2 separate regions of the Homo sapiens genome follow, and region 2 is linked to region 1. The links come from fine-mapping of genetic effects on gene expression. Tissue or cell type: whole blood. Region 1 holds a variant in brackets; the other region holds the start of a gene. All regions are shown on one strand. Distances are between the middles of the regions. Region 1 overlaps CAMKK2 (calcium/calmodulin dependent protein kinase kinase 2). Region 2 holds the start of CAMKK2 (calcium/calmodulin dependent protein kinase kinase 2).

The links.
Region 2: CAMKK2 starts here. The variant in region 1 is fine-mapped to the expression of CAMKK2 in whole blood (INTERVAL, PIP above 0.99).

The regions. Positions count from the first base shown.
Region 1 is chr12:121,238,754-121,248,630 of GRCh38, reverse strand. CAMKK2 (calcium/calmodulin dependent protein kinase kinase 2) reads left to right here. Exons shown (of 17, transcript NM_001270485.2): 14 at 1-25; 15 at 3,391-3,491; 16 at 4,016-4,058; 17 at 7,762-9,877. The coding sequence ends at 7,932. Among named protein-coding and RNA genes, the nearest start is that of P2RX4, 34 kb to the right of the region's middle. RefSeq lists silencers at 2,634-2,847, 7,786-7,865. The variant G/A (reference allele first, on the strand shown) is at 4,898.
Region 2 is chr12:121,290,674-121,300,550 of GRCh38, reverse strand. It overlaps CAMKK2 (calcium/calmodulin dependent protein kinase kinase 2), which reads left to right and starts at 3,842. Exons shown (of 17, transcript NM_001270485.2): 1 at 3,842-3,913. RefSeq lists a silencer at 3,157-4,306.

The DNA of each region.
Region 1 (9,877 bases):
ACACATTCCCAGCTTGGCAACCGTGGTAAGGTGGATGGACCCCTGACCCAGAGCAGGGACCCAGGAGCCTGAGGTGGGGCCTGGCCAGGACAGGCCGGACACAGGCGGGTGCCCGGGAGTCAGATGTCCGGGGGCCACCCCTAATCCACAGCTGCTGGCCTCTGGGCCTTGGTCATGTATCAGGCCAGGTGACCCCTGCATCTTCTGAGCCAGGTTCCATGTTACCATAGGAAGGGGAAGATTATCCTTCTGGAATTCCTGCTTTCAGAGCTCATCAGGGGAGAGGAACTAGGAGAAGTTCCAGGCAGGGGCAAGGGTTGGGAGCCGGAGCCCAGGTCTCTAAGCCAGGATTCCCGCCTAGCTGGAATTTTAGGCTCCAGGGTGGATGGCGTAGCATATCTCACGTCTGCTGTGTGGGCAGCCACCAGGGGTAGGGGCAGGGACTTCCACGCACACACTCAGAAAGTTCTGCCCATCTCCTGAGAGTGAGAATTGCTTAGGAGCAAGTAGGTCCCCTTTTATGGCCTTGAATTTGGATCCTGACCCAGGAAGAAGGAGCCAGAATGTAGAGTCCTCAGGCCTAACCTTGGAGGCTCTGGGAATCGCCACTGACCAAGTCCCTGTCCAGGAGGGCAGTTAGCTCCAAGAGAGAGACCAAGAGTCCCAGGGATCCAGGTTCCAGGCAGCAGGCTTGGGGACAGAGACCAGCAGGTTGTCCCACCACAGCCACCTCGAAAGGCCTGGTTGCAGTTGGCCAGCACTAGTCCCAGTGGGCCGGCGGGCCCCTGGGCTCTGGGAGGGACCCTTGAGACTGGCTGGAAAGGCACAGAAGGTCCAGCTGTGAAGGATTGCCCCTGTAGGAGCCCAGATGCTGCTCCTGCTCCTCCAGCTTTGCACCTCTCTTCTCTGCTTCCCCACACACTTCCTCTCTCCTCCTCCCAAAGCTGAGCCCTGGCTGGGGCATCCATCCACATCTTCCTCCACTCTTTCCCCACCTGGGGCTGTGCAGGACCTTCACTGTTGAAGACCCACCCACACCCACTCACCCTTCCTCAACCACCCCTTGTGCCTGTAGACGAGGAGACAGCTGGCGTCGGACTCTGCACCCACCGTGGGTTACTGTGTTCCAGGCTCAGGAGGTTCTCAGTCCTGAATCAGTTGCCCTCCCTTTCCTTCCTGGGTCTCTGGGACGGGTTCTTGGGAGAAAGCGTCTGGCCCTGGAGGTCTGGAGTAGGCATTCATTATACGGGAAACACTTGTTGAACACCGAGTGGTTTCTCAGGCCTGTGCTGGGAGCAGGGGCTGGGTGGAGTGATGAACAAAACCCCCATGGCCTCTGCCATGCTTGAGAGGCAGATGCTGGTCAAACCAACAAATGTATGTACAGTGCAGTAGAGGGACCACAGGACATGCCCCTAATGGAGGCACACTTGGACCCACTGGGAAGAAGTGGATAGACACCGAGAGGATGGTAGGGTGTTAACTCCGCCGAGAGAGGGCGGACGGGCTAACACACTGGGTGGGGCCACTGAAGCAGGGCAAGGAAGGTGGAGGGAGGGTGTGGCGAGGTTTTACATGTTTACTCCAAGAGCATGGGTTTGAATCAGGGTTTGAACCAGGGCAGCTGGAGCAGGGATGGGCGGGTAGATACTGGGAAGTGGTCTGACTTGGGACAAGATGGCAAGGTCCAGGCCCCCTGCATGTGTTCATCATTTAGCAAACACGGAGCAGCCAGTGTGTGCCAGGCATAGGTGTCAAAGATGAGCTTAGCCCAGTGCCTGCTCTCAGGGGTAGGGGGCTGGGGGGCTGGGGGAGGGGCTCCTGGCCTTATAAGAAAGATGGACCTGGGAAGAATCAGCCTCCTGTGTGATCAGAGGCCAGTGCAGAGAGATGCAAGGGCTGGGGGCTTCACAGAGGAGGAGCTCCTGCTCTGGGTTGACAAGGCCACAGGGGAGGCGGCAGGGTGGGCTCACCTGGGGAGTGACATCTGCTCAGACACAGAGGAAAGAGGGGCTGGCATGTCCCAGTGACTGTAAGAACCTCAGTAGGGGAAGAGGCCTTCATTCTCTCTCTCTTTTTTTTTTGAGATGGAGTTTTGCTCTCGTTGCCCAGGCTGGAGTGCAGTGGTGTGGTCTTGGCTCACTGCAACCTCCGCCTCCCAGGTTCAAGCAATTCTTCTGCCTCAGCCTCCCATGTAGCTGGGATGACAGGTGCCTACCACCATGCCCAGCTAATTTTTGTATTTTTAGTGGAGACGCGGTTTCTCCATGCTGGCCAGGCTGGTCTCAAACTCCTGACCTCAGGTGATCCACCTGCCTCAGCCTCCCAAAGTGCTGGTATTACAAGCATGAGCCACCACGCCCGCCTCCCCCCCCCCGCTCCTTCTTTTAAATTGAGGTAGAATTCACATAACATAAAATTAAAGTGAACAATTCAGTGACATTTGGGACATTCACAGTGACATGCAATTATCTCCTCAATAGTTCTGAACATTTTCATTACTTCACACCCCCGCCCATCAGCAATGACTCTCCATTCACCTCCCCCCAGCCCTGGCACCCACTCACCTGCCCTCTGTGTCTATAGATTTGTGTATTCTGGTGGAATCCTACACTCTGAGGCCTTTCGGGCCTGGCTACTTTGACGTAGGAGAAGGTTTTCAGGGTCCGTTTGTGTTGTAGCATGGATCAGTGCTTCACTCCTTATGGCTGAATCATGTTCCATTGCACAGACAGACCGCTTTGAGTTTATCTTCTTCAGTTGATGGGCATTTGGGTGTTTGCATCTTTTGGTAAATCAGTGTTTCTTAAACACTTATTTTTCTTGTTAGCAGCAAATGCTTAAAAAGTCAGAAGCTCTGTGAATTCCCAAAACAGCTTGAAGGGGCACCGTGCCCTGGTTGGGGTGGGGTGAGGGGCCCAGTGACTCTTATGGGGCCCTCAGGCCATTCCCTTCATGGGAAATGGCAGCCAAGAGCATCACCAAGAATGACTGGTTCACGTCCTTGCTCCAGAACTTTCCGGGGCTCTCTGGCTGACCACAGGCCAAGTTCCAGACCCCTCTGGGTGGGGATGCTGAGTCAGGGAGTGAGGGGACCAGATCTGGGTTTTGGAAGGGATGGGAGGGAGGGAGGTGGAAAGCAGGGAGGCCTGGGAGAGACGCTGAGCAGTGGCTGAGGGTGTGGTGCAGGACAGCACCTTTTCCCAGAGGATTCTTTCGGCGGGGGTTGGTTGCGGGGTGGTGCTGCCCAGTTTCTCTCAAAGTCTGCCATCGGTCACCAGCCCTGGGAGCTGGCAGGGGCTGGGGAGAAGGAAGAGGGAGGATGTTGCCCAGAATCGCCCCCACATGGCCAAGCAGTTGCCTGCCACCTCCTCTTTTCTCCCTCTTCAGATCCTGGTGAAGACCATGATACGTAAACGCTCCTTTGGGAACCCATTCGAGGGCAGCCGGCGGGAGGAACGCTCACTGTCAGCGCCTGGAAACTTGCTCACGTGAGTGGCCGCCTGCCTTCTTGGGTGGGGGAGTGGTGGCTGGAGGCTAGGCTTGGGGCAGCCCTGCCCAGACCACTCTGCACAGGTCCTCCCTGAAGTGGTGCCATCTGGAGAGACTCAGATGAAACCCACCTGGTGCACTGGGACAGTCAGCACCCCAACCTGGGCTCAGCCCACCTCCTTTTGCTGACAGCTAATCCACCTGAAGTTTACCTTTCTCGGGAACTTGCACTGTAGCTGGGGGGCTCTTGGTCAGTCAGAAGAAAAGCACTTTTGTGGCCCGGGACCGTGAGTGCCTGATGGGGAGGTTTGAGGCTCTGTGCTGGGCGAGCAGTGTGGTCTCACTCAGGACCCTGTGTGTCCATGCAGAGAGGTGTCCACTCATCTGCTGTCAACGCCACCCTGGCTCCAGCTCTATGAAGCTGGTGTTTGGGGTCTGAGTGTCTCAGGGTGGGGGAACGGGCATCCCGTGGATCCCAAGGGTCCCTTCTCACTTCCCTTTTCCCTCCCTCTGGTGATTCCAGCAAAAAACCAACCAGGGAATGTGAGTCCCTGTCTGAGCTCAAGGTAACGCCCGCCTGCCTGTGCCGTAGCCTCTGCTGGGGCCTGAGGGGGGCGGGTGGGCAGCTGCAGAGCACGGGGGCATCCCCACCCGGGCAGATGCTCCTTCCAGCCTGGGCTGCTGTGGCCCGGCTCACCGCGGGCCTCCAGACCCAGTATTAGAATGAGGGGCCTCGGGGGCTTGGACCCAATGGTGGGTCATGCATGTGGGCTGGGGCTGCGGGTGCATGGCGCTCCAGCTGGAATGCCTGAGAATGCACCCAGGTCTGAAGATCCTGTGTGGCACCCATGTCTTCTCAGTGCACGTCAATGGTGTTGAAGCTCTGTCACAGGGCCCATGGGTGCCCCCCCGAGTCCGCATGGTCAGCACATAGGTCAGGCATGCTGCACTGTGTGGCTCTTCGCTAGGGGCTCTCCAGCCTCCACTTCTCTTTCTTTGATGTGTTTAGACCTAGAAAATAAGTCCCCTTCCTGCCTGTTGCAAAGTAACGTAAGAGTTCCCTCACCCGAGTGGATGCAGACCTTCTTGCTGTCAGCCACCCTTCCTTCATACACATAGCCAGCCCAGGTGACCAGAACCTCCCAGGACAGATGAGGCTTTGTGTCCTTATGAGACTGGGAGAACCTGCTGGGCACCCCTGCTGCAGGTGCTGTGGTGGGTGGGGACCCCACTGCCCTTCCCACTGAGCACATCATGGCTACCTGACTTGGTGGGAGCTCCAGGCAGTCACTTCTGTTTCTTAAACATAGCTTTACTGAGGTACAATTCACATACCATGTAATTCACCCACGGGAAGTGTATGATTCAGTGGTTTCTAATACAGACTTCTGCAGCCATTACCACC[G/A]TCAACTTTACGACATTTTCATCAGCCCAAGAAGACACCCTACACTCCTTAGCTGTCCCCATCCAACTCCCCCACCCCAGTAACCACTCAGAATAGGTATGGATTTGCCTATTCTGGACGTTTCGTATAAATGGCGTCATACACTACGTGGCCTTCTGTGTCTGGCTTCTTTCTCTCAGCATCATGTTTTCAAGGTTCATCCATGCTCTACATGTATTAGTGCTTCATTCCTTTTCATGGCCAAATAAGATTCCATTGTTTGGATGCACCTCACTTTGTTCATCCATTCCTCTGTGGATGGACTTGTCTCCACCTTTTGGCTATCGAATGAAGACTGATGCTATGAACATTTGTGTACAAAGTGTTAGGAGTTGGCTTACGAGATGAAATGGATTGACTAGCAGGCTGGATGCAGTGGCTCACGCCTGTAATCCCAGCACTTTGGGAGGCCGAGGCAGGTGGATCATGAGGTCAGGAGTTTGAGACCAGCCTGGCCAATATGGTGAAACCCCGTCTCTACTAAAAATACAAATATTAGCCGGGCATGGTGGCGCACACTTGTAGTCCCAGCTACTCGGGAGGTGAGGCAGGAGAATCACTTGAACCCAGGAGGTGGAGGTTGCGGTGAGCTGAGATCACGTCATTGCACTCCAGCCTGGGCAACAAGAGCAAAAATCTGTCTCAAAAAAAAAGGCTGGGCGCGGTGGCTCACGCCTGTAATCCCAGCGCTTTGGGAGGCCAAGGCAGGCGAATGACGAGGTCAGGAGATCGAGACCATCCTGGCTAACACAGTGAAACCCCGTCTCTACTAAAAATACAAAAAATTAGCCGGGCGCGGTGGCGGGCGCCTGTAGTCCCAGCTACTCGGGAGGCTGAGGCAGGAGAATGGCGTGAACCCGGGAGGCGGAGCTTGCAGTGAGCCGAGATTGCGCCACAGCACTCCAGCCTGGGCGACAGAGCGAGACTCCGTCTCAAAAAAAAAAGAAAAGAAAAAGAAATGGATTGGCCACCCATCCCGTGGGAGTCAGGGCTTATATGGTAATCTAGGAGGAACACCTGTTTGGGAATTATTTATGCTTTTGAGAGAAACCTTGCCCTCCAGCATAGAGCAGGGAAAATGGCAGTCCTTCAGAACCGGTCTTCAGCAGTCTCAGAAGGCAGACACAGTCCCCAGCTTGTGCCCAGACAGACGCCTGGGCAGCCCCGCCTTGGGTGTGAGCCTCACGGATGATGGAGTGGAAACCCAGCGGGCTGGCCTTTCCTCGGCCTTCCTCCTCTCAATCTCCATTTTAGGGTTTGCCAAACCGGGGCTGCCTCCTGTCTCTGAGCAAGTCTGCTGTTGGTTTCTTTCCTATTTTCTTTCTTTCTTTCTTTCTTTCTTTTTTTTTTTTGAGACAGGGTCTTGCACTGTTGCCCAGGTTGGAGTGTTGGAGTGTAGTGGTGTGATCTCGGCTCACTGCAACCTCTGCCTCCTAGGCTCAAGCGATTCTCCTGCCTCAGCTTCCTGAGTAGCTGGGTTTACAGACATGTGCCACCATGCCCAGCTAATTTTTGTATTTTTTTAGTAGAGATGGGGGTTTCACCATGTTGGCCAGGCTGGTCTTGAACTCCTGACCTCGGGTGATCTGCCTGCCTCAGCCTCCCAAAGTACTGGGATTACAGGCATGAGCCACTGTGCCCGGCCTTCGTTTCAATGAGATCAAAATTGCAAGACACCAGCAGATGGAGACTGGCCCCAAAGGGCTATGCTGCCCCTTCCTTTCTTCACCTGGGATCCCCTGCCCTCAGCCCCCAGCAGGTAGGATGCCTTGGTCATGGGAGCTCACAGAGCTGATTCAGGCACTGGGGGTCTTGGACTGGGGGCCTGCCTGCCGTCTGCAGTAAGACCCAACCCCTACCAACAGGCAACTGCGAGGGCAGAGACTGAGGGCCTGACCTAACGTCTAGTTACAGCGCCCCCCTCCCCAGGGACCTTACCCACATTCTCCATCAGAAACATAGCAAGCCAGACATCACGCTTCCTTTCCCTTGTGTAAGGACAGTCTCCCTCCTGGACAGGAGACACGGATTGTTGTGGGGGAAGGACAGACAGTAACCCATGTGGCATGCCCAGTGACCTCCCTAAGAACAGGGGAGCTGTGTGATGGTGGTGAGGGGATAGGCTCGGGGATTCCCCTCGCACCTGTCACGCCATCCACGCTGTCACACCGGCGGCTCCAGCCTGGGCTCTTCAGGGAAACAAGGGCTCTCCTCCTCCCACTTCCAAGAGGGAAGGGGCCTCCTCTTCTGTCTGAGGTGCTCCTCCCTCAGGGCTGGCTGCAGGAGGGCTGAGGCGGGAGGATCCCTGGAGCAGTTGTCATCTGCCCTTTCTTGAGGGCCAGCTGTGTGCCAGGCCAGGCAGGGGAGGCTCTGATCACCCCCACACACAAGGAACTCAACATCTGGTGACTGAGGACAAGCGTCACAGTCCCTTCCCTGTAAGGGCTCATAGCCTAAGTGGGGGATCGAAGTACCTAAAAACCTGGTATGACAGGCGCCGTGGGGTGGGGGGTGCCTTCTACTTGGGATTTGTGCAGTGAATTTTGGTGTTACATAGTTTTGGAACTGTTGTACGGGTCCTTGCTATTTTTGGCAAATGATGCTGGTCTTTCATTTACAGAGGGGCTGCGTGCAAAGTCTCCTTTGAAAAATTTATGTGAGCAAGGAAAAGGGGAGAGGATCTCAAAGACTGGGTTACGTAGATCACGTTCCAGGGGGTGCGCGACGGCCCACTTGGGCAGGGGGCCCAGATGTGGGAGCAGCTGGCTCAGGGCCTCGCTGGCATTTCTCAGAGTCTTAATGTTGGTTTTCTGTTCGGTGAGCAGGAAGCAAGGCAGCGAAGACAACCTCCAGGGCACCGACCCGCCCCCCGTGGGGGAGGAGGAAGTGCTCTTGTGAGAGGCAGTCCCTGCGTGGAAAGTTGCTGGGCCCCCGCCCCCGGCTCCCCCGCACGCATGCATCCACTGCGGCCGGAGGAGGCCATGGAGCCCGAGTAGCTGCCTGGATCGCTCGACCTCGCATGCGCGCCGCGTCGCCTCTGGGGGGCTGCTGCACCGCGTTTCCATAGCAGCATGTCCTACGGAAACCCAGCACGTGTGTAGAGCCTCGATCGTCATCTCTGGTTATTTGTTTTTTCCTTTGTTGTTTTAAAGGGGACAAAAAAAAAAAAAGGACTTGACTCCATGACGTCGACCGTGGCCGCTGGCTGGCTGGACAGGCGGGTGTGAGGAGTTGCAGACCCAAACCCACGTGCATTTTGGGACAATTGCTTTTTAAAACGTTTTTATGCCAAAAATCCTTCATTGTGATTTTCAGAACCACGTCAGATATACCAAGTGACTGTGTGTGGGGTTTGACAACTGTGGAAAGGCGAGCAGAAAACTCCGGCGGTCTGAGGCCATGGAGGTGGTTGCTGCATTTGAGAGGGAGTAGGGGGCTAGATGTGGCTCCTAGTGCAAACCGGAAACCATGGCACCTTCCAGAGCCGTGGTCTCAAGGAGTCAGAGCAGGGCTGGCCCTCAGTAGCTGCAGGGAGCTTTGATGCAACTTATTTGTAAGAAGGATTTTTAAATTTTTTATGGGTAGAATTGTAGTCAGGAAAACAGAAAGGGCTTGAAATTTAATAAGTGCTGCTGGAAGGGGATTTTCCAAGCCTGGAAGGGTATTCAGCAGCTGTGGTGGGGAAACATTTCTCCTGAAAGACTGAACGTGTTTCTTCATGACAGCTGCTCAAAGCAGGTTTCTGAGATAGCTGACCGAGCTCTGGTAAATCTCTTTGTCAAATTACGAAAACTTCAGGGTGAAATCCTATGCTTCCATGTACATTACATGGCTTAAGATTAAACAAAAACATTTTTCAAGTCTCTAACTAGAGTGAACTCTAGAGCACAGTAGTTCAGAAACTATTTAGAGCTTCCAGGATATATTTCACAGCTTCAGGCATGTGATCAGTTAGAGCCGATGAAACCTATGCCCGCCTGTATATATATTAGCAGCTTAGCTAGTTCATAACCTGTATATTCTAAAGACTGCTAAGGTTTTGTTTTCATTTTAAATCCTAGCTGATTGTTGTGGTCAATGAAATACCCAGTTTCTGGAGGGCCAGGTGGGAAATGCTTTCACTGGACCAACACACAAATGATCATCCTGAGGATCTGAGCTTCCCTAGACTCCACACAATAACCTTGGGGCACCCTTTTAGAGAAGACTGTTGAAACCCACAGCACTCGTTGGGGTATGAGGAAACCAGGGCTTGGCACAGGAAGTTCCCCTTTGTAGCTAAAAGTCCAGAAAGAAAGGGTTCATCTTTTTGACTTCCAACTGATATTGGGAAGTTTGGTTGAGGTTCAAGTGTGACTCCTTCCAGAGCCACAGGTAGGGGAGTGTGAAGTTGAGGGGGAGGAAAGCTGGAAGGACTCTGCCTTGGGAGATTCCCAGCTCTGCTTTCCAGCGCTTGGTGGAATCTGGGCTGGGGAAAGACGGCACCGGGAAACTCTGCTTCCCCATTGTTTCCATCTGATCAGCTGTGGTGTGAGGACTTCTCAGACAAAGGCAAGGCCTCGTGCCCCTGCCCAGCCCATTCATGGAGCCCTGGGCCTTCTTGGCTTCCATAGATCCTAAGCTCTTGACTGTAGTTTAGCCAGACTTGTTTTGCTATCTTATAAGCAGTTCAGAATTAGGGAATGCTGGTTTTGAAGAGCAAAGGACAGGTAGTCTAGAGAGGGTCGTCTGGCCTGCTTGCTGGGTCTTTGTAACCCAGCACTTCCTCTTGCCCTCCTGGCTTTATGTTTATGGGGAGAGGACTCAATAGCTCCACCCCTTCTGGCACCAGATGGGGCTTGGTTAGTTTGCAATAAGCACCTTGCAGAGGTTAAAGCCAGCGGGTCCCTAGTCTTAGGCCCAGCCTGCTTGTGTGGGCTCTGGCCTGGCCTGGTGGCTGGC
Region 2 (9,877 bases), 52 kb before region 1:
ATAAAGAAGGAAGGGAGGTGGCTGAGCATCAAATAAATGGTACAGTCCTTGCTTTAAGACATCAGAGAGAGGAGCGGGCAGGGAGGGCCTGGCTCACAGCATTTCAGGAAACTATCAGGAAAAGCAACTCTTGAGCTAGGGTTTGGATTTGTAGGGGCACTTCCCAACCTTTCTTACTTAATTGGCTTTTAAGTTTACACAGCTGTGTGTATATCTAAGTTTCTGCCTGTGTGAGCTACAGTGTTCTAATAAAACACAGGCAATTTAGTAACATGATGTAAACATACAGAATTGTTTAACAAGTACCAGGAAAAGACATCCAGTAACAGGAAAGGACACCCAAATCTATTTTGGTTACCTTAGTAAAGCAGGGTTGCCAAACTATTTATTGCCCATAAGCTAAATCTGTCATGCCACCTGTTTTTTATGGCCTGCTAAGAATGGTTTTTACGTTTTTCTTTTTTCTTTTTGTCAAGATGGGTCTTGCCATGTTGTCCAGGCTGGTCTCAAACTTCTAGGCTCAAGTGATCCTGCCCCCTCGGCCTCCCAGAGTGCTAAGATTGTAATCACGCGTGTAGGTGTAAGCCACCACACCTGGCCTTTCACATTTTTCAATGGTTAAATAAAAACCAAAACAGTAATATTTTGTGACTTATGAAAATCATATGAAATTCAGTTTTCAGTGTCTGTAAATAAAGTTTTATTGGAACACTGCCGCATGCATTCATTTACTATTTCCTGTGGCTGCTAGGATGGCAGGGTTGAGTAGCTGCATTACAGAGCCTATGGCTTGCAAAGCCTAAAATATTTACTATCTGGCCCTTTACAAAGTTTGCTGACCCTGCCTTAAAGTGCCCCAGATAATCTCCACCAGGCCTGATACATATTTTTTTTGGGGGGGGGGGGGGAAATATGAGAATATAGAAAAATACGGGACTATGCATCCCCCATTCAGAATTGACTATTGCTAACAGTTTGCCATTTGCCTCACAGCCATTTATAAGTACTAAAAGGAATAAAACTTTACAACATTCCTTATGCTCCCTGTCCCGTTCTGTGCTTTTTTCCTTCTTTGTGGCACACTGTCATGAATTTAATGTATATTCTTCTCTTTGACTTTAAAAATCTTGTATGTAAGCATGTGTCCATGAACAGTATCTACTGCATGGGATTTTAAGGTACACACAAATTGTACATCATGTTGTATTCTGCAACTTGCTGTTTTACTCAACATTATGTTTTTGGGATTTCCTTATGTCAGTACAGATCCAGTGCACCCCTTTTATCTATTAGATGGTATTCCATCAAACAACTATAATGAGTTTCATTTATCCATTCCTTTGATGAACATATAGGAAGTTGTTCCCAGGTGGTTTTTTTTTTGTGTTTTTGTTTTGTTTTGTTTTGTTTTTGAGATGGAGTCTTGCTCTGTCACCCAGGCTGGAGTGCAGTGGCATGATCTCGGCTCACTGCAACCTCTGCCTCCCGGGTTTCAAGCGATTCTCCTGCCTCAGCCTCCTGAGTAGTTGGGATTACAGGCGCGCGCCACCATGCCTGGCTAATTTTTGCATTTTTTTTTTAAGTAGAGACGGGGTTTCACCATGCTGGTCAGGCTGGACTTGAACTCCTGACTTCGTGATCTGCCCACCTTGGCCTCCCAAAGTGCTGGGATTACAGGCGTGAGCCACTGTGCCCAGACTTTTTTTTTTTTTTTTGAAACAGTCTTGGTCTGTCGTCCAGGCTGGAGGGTAGTGGTGCGATCTCTCTGCCTCCCGGTTCAAGTGGTTCTCGTGCTTCAGCCTCCTGAGTAGCTGGGATTACGGGCACCGCCACCACACCGGGCTAATTTTTGTATTTTTGATAGAGATGGGGTTTCACCATGCTGGCCAGGCTAGTCTCGAACTTCTGGCCTCAAGTGATCTCTCCGCCCGGGCCTCCCAAAGTGCTGGGATCATAGGCGTGAGCCACCATGCCCGGCCTCAGGTTTTTGCCATTTCCAGCAAATGCATGCACGTTGAGTAACATCAGAAGAGGTGGATGGCCGAGCATGTTGGCTCATGCCTATAATCCCAGCACTTTGGGAGGCAGAGGCAGGAGGATCACTTGAGCCCAGGAGTTTGAGACCAGCCTGGGCAACATAGGGAGAACTCTGTCTCTACAAAAAATAGAAAAAATTAGCCAGGTGTGGTGGTGTGTGCCTGTAGTCCCAGCTACTCAGGAGGCTGAGGCTGGAGGATCACCTGAGCCTGGGGAGGTCGAGGGTGCAGCGAGCCGTGATCGTGCTACTGCACTCCAGCCTGGGCAACACAGAGAGACCCTGTCTCAAAACAAACAAACAAACAAACAAACAAACAAACAAAAAAAACAAAGAAAAAAAAATGGGAGTGGGCCGGGCGCGGTGACTCACACCTGTAATCCCAGCACTTTCGGAGGCCAAGGCGGGTGGATCACGAGGTCAGGAATTCAAGATTAGCCTGGACAACATGGTGAAACCCCATCTCTACGAAAAATACAAAAATTAGCCAAGTATGGTGGCCGGCGCCTGTAATCCCAGCTACTCGGGAGACTGAGGCAGAGAACTGCTTGAACCTGGGAGGCAGAGGTTGCAGTGATCCGAGATCGCGTCACTGCACTCCAGCGTGGGCGACAGAGCGAGACTCCGTTTCAGAAAAGAAAAAAAAAAAAAAAAAAAAGGGAGTCGGGGTGGAGCTCTCATTGGCTCGTTGCATGTGAGTGTCCCTACGGCCTAGAAATACAAGAGAAGCACATCGGAACGGGCTGGAAATCCACCCAGTTAACTAGAGGGCTTTGAACCTTTTATTAACTTGGAGGTTGACTCTCCTGTCAACTCGATTCCCTTTTGGCTGTTTGGCAGGGTCAGTGAGACATCCCCTGGGTCGCTCGACCCCGTAGGACGGTTCAGGGAGCCCTCCAGGTCTTCGTTTCTCCTCTTCCCCGCACAGTGCTGTTATCCAGCTGGGGGATCCAACGCACACTTAAGGCTCCAGCAAAGTAAGTGCCAAAAAGGGGAGAATGGGAAGAATATGCTGTATTTCACAAAAAGCATCTAAGTAGCCATCTGGAAAAGCCAGAATGAACTTCAATGGTGCATCCAGGTGGGCTGGGGATGGGAGAGGAACGCCTTCCCCCAGCCTTTAGGGCCGGCCCTGAGCAAGTGGTCAGTCGGCAGGCAGCTGCGGAAGGGGGCTCCCCCGAGTCGGTGGTGGCCCAAAGTCCAGGCCGCATCCACCGCCCGGCGCCTAGCGCAGGGGCAGCAGCCGGGTCGCCACAGGAGGGGCCCCGGGTGTTCTTGCCGGCTTGGGGGAACTTTCCCAGGGTCAGCCCGGAGGCGCCCTGCAGCCCCGGCATTTGGCTAAACAAAGCAAGCGCTGCCGGCGCGGCCCGCCCGAGGGCGCCGCGGGAAGAACCTGGGCAGGTGCGCGCCGCGGGCGAGCGGGTACAAAGTTGCGGCGCCACCTCCTGCGCTCCGCGCCCCTCCAGGCTCTCCTCCCAGCCGCCTCCGATCCTCCCGGCCGGGCCTCTCTTCCCCCGTTCTTCGCCTCCTCCCTTTCTGCTCCTTGCCCTTCGCCTCTTCGCTACTTTCGTCTTTGCAGGCTCCCGCCTCCCCACCCCTCCCCGGCGCAGGGCCGAGCCGGCGGGGGCGCGCAGGGGGCGGTGCGCGGCGGGCGCGGGCGGTTCCGCTTTCGGGTTTCCCGCCGCCGTGGCCAATCCCCGCGCTGCCCGGGGCGGCGACGCGCCCAAGCCGAGCCGGGCGGCTCCTCCCGCCCCCGCCCCCCGCGCGCCCGCCGCCCGGGCGGAGGAGAGGAGCGCGCGGCCGCGCAGAGCAAGCTGAGCCGAGCCGAGCCGAGCTGGGGGCGCAGAGCGCGGGAGGCGGCGGCGGCGCGGAGCCCAGGTGAGCTGGCGGTAGCCGGGCCCGGGGCAAGGGACGCAGCCGCCGCGGCCCCGGGCGCCCGCTCCGTTTCCCTCTCGAGGCGGGGGACCGCCGCCGGCATGGCACACAAAGCCCGGAGGCTGGCCTGGGGCTCCCAACACGGAGGGACCCCACGTGCGCCTCCCCACGCCCCGCCACGTGGAGGGACACGGTCCCCGACAGCCCTTCCCCCGCGTCCTCTGGGCGCCCTGGGCCTCGGGATGGCCTCCTCGGCTGGGCCGCGCCCTGTCCGGGTGGCAGGGGCGGTCCTGGAGTTTGGAACCGGGGTCACCGGGGGCCGGGTCCGTCAGGGTTCGTGGAGGCGGCCTAGGCCCAGCCCCTCGCGTTTGACAGGTGGGGAAATCTGGAGCGTTCCGGGGAAGAGAGGACCAGCGGACTTGGAGCACCCCCACCCCGCAGCCTGCCTGTCTCGGGGCAAACCCAGGCCCTGGTGGCTTGGACACCAGGTGGCAGGACCCTAGGCCAGCAGTTGTGGGGACCTAGGGGACCTTTGGCTGTCTTCGGTCTGCCCTTTGACCACCCCCACCGCACCTCTTCTCTCAGCCGGAGCCTCACAGGCTTGGTCCTTCTGACCTAAATTCACCTCGGGGTTGCAGTATGCTGTGAATGCGGAGAGGCGTCCGCCTGACTCTCAGGGACACTGGACCCAGCCCCTCTCAGCATTGGGGCTCTGTGCCTGGGGTGCCACCCGACCCAGCCTTGAGCTTTTCCTGGCTTTCCCCCAGCCCCTGCACTGCCTAGCTGGGGAAGTGGGTGCTTTCACAGCTCTGCCAGCCTGCCCTCCTGGCCACTCTCACTTAGTGCTGGACAGGATGCAGCTCAGCCCCTCCGATCTCCCCGAGAAGGCTGAGCTTTGGGGAGGGCGTCTCAGTGCTATCAGCAAGAGAGGGATACCTGGCCTCCGGATGGGACCTGCAGCGTCCATCTCCCTACAGGCTACTTTTACCTTCCCCAGCCTGGTGTTTGGAGTCTCCACGCAGGGGATAGAAACTTCAGGTGCCCTAGAGCTGTGCTGCCATTTACCACTCCCCCTCCCCTAGCTCTGCCCCCAGAGGAGAGAGAAGAGGATGGCTTTATGTCCCCATAAGCTCCTTTGTTCCTTGGAGGAGGCGGGGGCTGCAACAAGGGGAGGGCTTTGGGGGAGTTAGCCACCCTCTTCCCTAATCACCCCACAAAAACATGCAGTTTCAGAATAAATAGTGTGCATGCCATGCAAATGCAGCTTTAGGGCAAGCCCCACATACCCCTTCCAGACTGCTGCTCATACACCCTTCCTATGGAGGAAGCAGGCATTGGTGACACACACCCTTCCTATGGAGGAAGCAGGCATTGGTGATGAGGACGCAAAACATATTTTTGTAATGAAGAGTAATAGCCATCATTTGATGAGCCCCTAACTTGGATAATAATAAGAATACTTATTTATTTATTTTGAGACGGAGTCTCTGTTGCCCAGGGTGGAGTGCAGTGGCACAATCTTGGCTCACTGCAACCTCCGCCTCCCGGGTTCAAGCGATTCTCATGCCTCAGCCTCTCCAGTAGCTGGGATTACAGGCGCCCACCACCATGCCTGGCTAATTTCTGTATTTTTAGTAGAGAAGGGGTTTCACCATGTTGGTCAGGCTGGTCTTGAACTCCTTACCTCAAGTGATCCGCCTACGTCAGTCTCCCAAGTGCTAGGATTACAGGCATGAGCTGCCACCTGGCCCTGGACAATAATAATAATAACAGTATTAAAAACTAACATCTATTGAGTTCTTGCTGCCTGCCAGATTCTGTGCTATGTGTTACATGCATTATCTCATTTAATGCCTACCAAATCCTACAACGTAGGGAATTTTAACCCCATAGTAGAGATTAGGAGACTGAGGTTTACAGAAATCCTGCAGTGTTGCTAGGATTTAGCCCCATTTTATAGAAGGGCTCAGAGAAGTTAAGTAACTTGCTCAGGGTCACACAGCCAGTGCAGGCATGTCAGGCCTTAGAACCTTTGTGCACCTGTTCAAGAGCAGAGACCCTGGCAAGGCTGCCCTGAGCTTCTTGAGGAGCCCAGGAGTTTGTTTTGTTTTGTTTATTCACTACATCAGTGTTTGCCGATGCAGCTCTATGCAGGGTCTGTAGTACTGCCCATCCTTAGATATGGCTAGTGGGCTGGTAGCTAAATATAGTCACTAATAACAATGCACTAGTTCTCATCCGGGGGTGGTCCCACCCTCCTGGCAGGGATTTGGGAAAGTGTGGGGGCGACTTTTGGTTGTCAAAATGATGCTAAGCACTCCTGGCTTTTAGTGGGCGGGAGTCAGGGATGCCTACTAAAGTGTCCTGTAGGCAGGCCAGGGCCACGACATAAAGAATCACCCTCCCCTGGCTGGGCGTGGTGGCTCACGCTTGTAATCCCAGCACTTTGGGAGGCCGAGGCAGGAGGATCACCTGAGGTCAGGAGTTCGAGACCAGCCTGGCCAACATGGTGAAACCCCATCTCTACTAAAAATACAAAAATTAGCTGGGCGTGGTGGCACACACCTGTAATCCCAGCTACTTGGGAGGCTGAGGCAGGAGAATCACTTGAACCTGGAAGGCGGAGGTTGCAGTGTGCTGAGATCGTGCCATTGCACTCCAGCGTGGGGCACAAGAAGGAGACTTCCTCTCAAAAAACAAACAAAAAACAAAAAAAAATCACCCTCCCCCAAATGCCAGCAGTGCCACTGTTGAGAAACACCACAAGGAATGAGTGCTGTTGTGATCGAAGGAGCACAGGGCACTGAGGGTTCTGGAGAAATCTCCTCAGACTGGTGTGAATCTGGGAGGCTCCCTGAAGGAGGTGTCATTTGTGCAGAGCCTTGAAGGATGGGCCAGAAATGGGAGATGGGATGGGAGTAGGAGGGGAAGGGGATAGGGTGGGGTGACCTAGCAGGGAACTTTGTGCAGTAGCCGGGGGTTTCCTCTTTGAGAACCTCATCCTAGATGGAAGATGAGTGGCCAGACACCACTCTCAGGGGAGAGGACCAGGCCAAGTGGGGCAGGCCAAGCCTGTTTTCAAGGCATTTTGGCTCAAATTTTAACATGGGCCACAGAATCACCATTATTCTATCAACTCATTTTATGGAAGCCTCTTTATATGAAGGGCTCAGAGAGGCTGAGTAATTTGCTCAGGGTCACCTGTGATCTTCTTCCCGCCCCAGCATACTTTCTTCTGGTGGTTATGGGAAACATTTCATTTCCTGATCCTGGGGATTTGGGGCAAATGCTATTTCAGATTTTCCTTTAAATCAGAGGGTCTTATATTGCTTATTGCTTTGCTTTGTTTCTTTTCTTTTCTTTGAGATGGAGTTTCCCTCTTGTTGCCCGAGCCAGAGTACAGTGGTGTGATCTCGGTTCACTGCAACCTCTGCCTCCCAGGTTCAAGCGATTCTCCTGCCTCAGCCTCCCGAGTGGCTGGGATTACAGGTACACACCACCAGGCCTGGCTAATTTTTTGTATTTTTAGTAGAAACGGGGTTTCACCATGTTAGCCAGGCTGGTCTCGAACTCCTGACCTCAGATGATCCGCCTGCCTCGGCCTCCCAAAGTGCTGGGATTACAGGCGTGAGCCACGGCGCCCAGCTTTTTTTTTCTTTTTTTTTTTCTTTTGAGATGGGATCCCACTTTGTTGCTCAGGGTGGAGGGCAGTGGTGCTATCATAGCTCACTGTAGTCTCCAACTCCTGGGCTCAAGTGATCCTTCTACCTCAACCACCAGAGCAGATGAGACTACAGGTGCATGCCACCATGCCTGGCTAAAATTTTAATTTCTTTATAGAAACAGGGTCTTACTATTTTGCCCAGGCTGGTCTCGAACTCCTGGACTCAAGTGATCCTCTAGGCTCAGGCTCCCAAAGTGCTGGGATTGGATTATAGCCATTGTGTCTGGCCTACTGCTATTTTTCTTCCATGTTTTGCTTTCCCACTCACTTCTTCTCTTTGGATGGGGTTAGAGAACCTGGATATGGGGTTCAGGCCGGCTGGCTGCATGGTGCTGCTGCAGCCTCAGCCTTGCGTCTGTGTCTCTTTCCTAACAGTTGAGGAAATTGCATTTCCCTTTTGAAACCGATCTTCTTTCAGGCTGTGCTTGTTGCCTTACTGACCTGTTAGTAGAGATTCGTAAGGGCTTCTTTTTAAAAAAATTGAGGAGGGCTGGGCACGGTGGCTCACGCCTGTAATCCCAGCACTTTGGGAGGCCGAGGCGGGTAGATCACTTGAGGTTAGGAGTTCAAGATCAGGCTGGCCAACATAGCGAAACCCCGTCCCCACTAAAAATACAATAAAAATTAGTTGAGCCTGGTAGCTTGTGCCTGTAATCCCAGCCACTCGGGAGACTGAGACAGGAGAATCGCTTGAACCCGGGAGGTGGATGTTGCATTGAGCCAAGATCGTGCCACTGCACTCCTGCCTGGGCGACAAAGCAAGACTCCTTCTCAAAAGAAAAAAAAAATTGAGGTGAAATTCACATAATATAAGCTTAACCATTTTATTTTATTTTGTTTTATTTTATTTATTTATTTTTTTGAGACAGAGTCTCACTCTGTCGCCAGGCTGGAGTGCAGTGGCGTGATCTCGGCTCACTGCAACCTCCAGCTCCTGGGTTCAAGCGATTCTCCTGCCTCAGCCTCCCAAGGAGCTGGGATTACAGGCATGTGACACCATGCCCAGCTAATTTTTGTATTTTTAGTAGAGACGGGGTTTCACCATGTTGGCTAGGATGGTCTTGATCTCTTGACCTCATGATCTGCCCGCCTCGGCCTCCCAAAGTGCTGGGATTACAGGCGTGAGCCACCATGCCCAGCCCAAACTTAACCATTTTAAAGTGAACAATTCAGTGGCATTTAGTACATTTATAATGTTGTACAACCACTACTTCTGTCTAGTTCCAGAGCATTTTCATCACCCCCAGAGGAAACCTTGTACCCATTAAACTGTCACTCTCTCTTCCCAGTGCCCCTCCCTGCAGCCCCTGGCAACCACCAGCCTACTTTCTGTCTCTCTGGATTTGCTTGTTTTGGACATTTCATATAAATAGAATCATGTAATATATGACTTTTGTGTCTGGCTTCTTTCATTCAGCATCATGCTTTCAAGACTGATCCATGCCATAGTGGCTGTCAGTGCTTCATTCGCTTCTGCGGCCCAGTACTATTCCATTGTGTGGATGGACCGCATTTTGTGTATACATTCATCCATTGATAGACATTTGGGTTGTTTCCACCATAAAGGCGTCTTAAGGCTACTTTGTCCATTCCCGTGTCTCTGTAGCCCCTCAGTTAATGAACTTCTTGGCATAAGACATTTTTTTGTCACTCTGTTTGGAGGGAGCAGGTGATGGAAGAAAGGTTTCTTGAAATCACTCAGGAACCAGTTTCCCAACCCAAGGTTTTCGGGATTCCCTTCATGCACCCTTACCTACCCCTTGCAAGAATCGTGGCTCCCCATTTAAACCCATTGCTGGCCAGGCACAGTGGCTTACGCCTGTAATCCCAGCACTTTGGGAGGCCAAGGCGGGTGGATCACTTAAGGTCAGGAGTTCAAGACCAGTCTGGCCAACGTGGTGAAACCCCATCTCTACTAAAAATTCAAAAATTAGCCGGGTGTGTTGACACGCGCCTGTAATCCCAGCTGCTCTGGAGGCTGAGGCAGGAGAATCGCTTGAACCCGGGAGGCAGAGGCTGCAGTGAGCCGAGGTCAGTGTGACTGCACTCCAGCCTGGGTGACAGAGCGAGACTCCGTGTCAAAAAGAAAAAACCACAAAACAATAACAACAAAACAAACCCATTGCCTCCTGGATCAATTCATGGTCATTTCATTACAATTTTCAGGGACAGTCTTGGTTTTATTCAGTTCCATTCTTTTCAGTTACGATGATTTTTTGTGTGTTTTGAGATGGGATCTCACT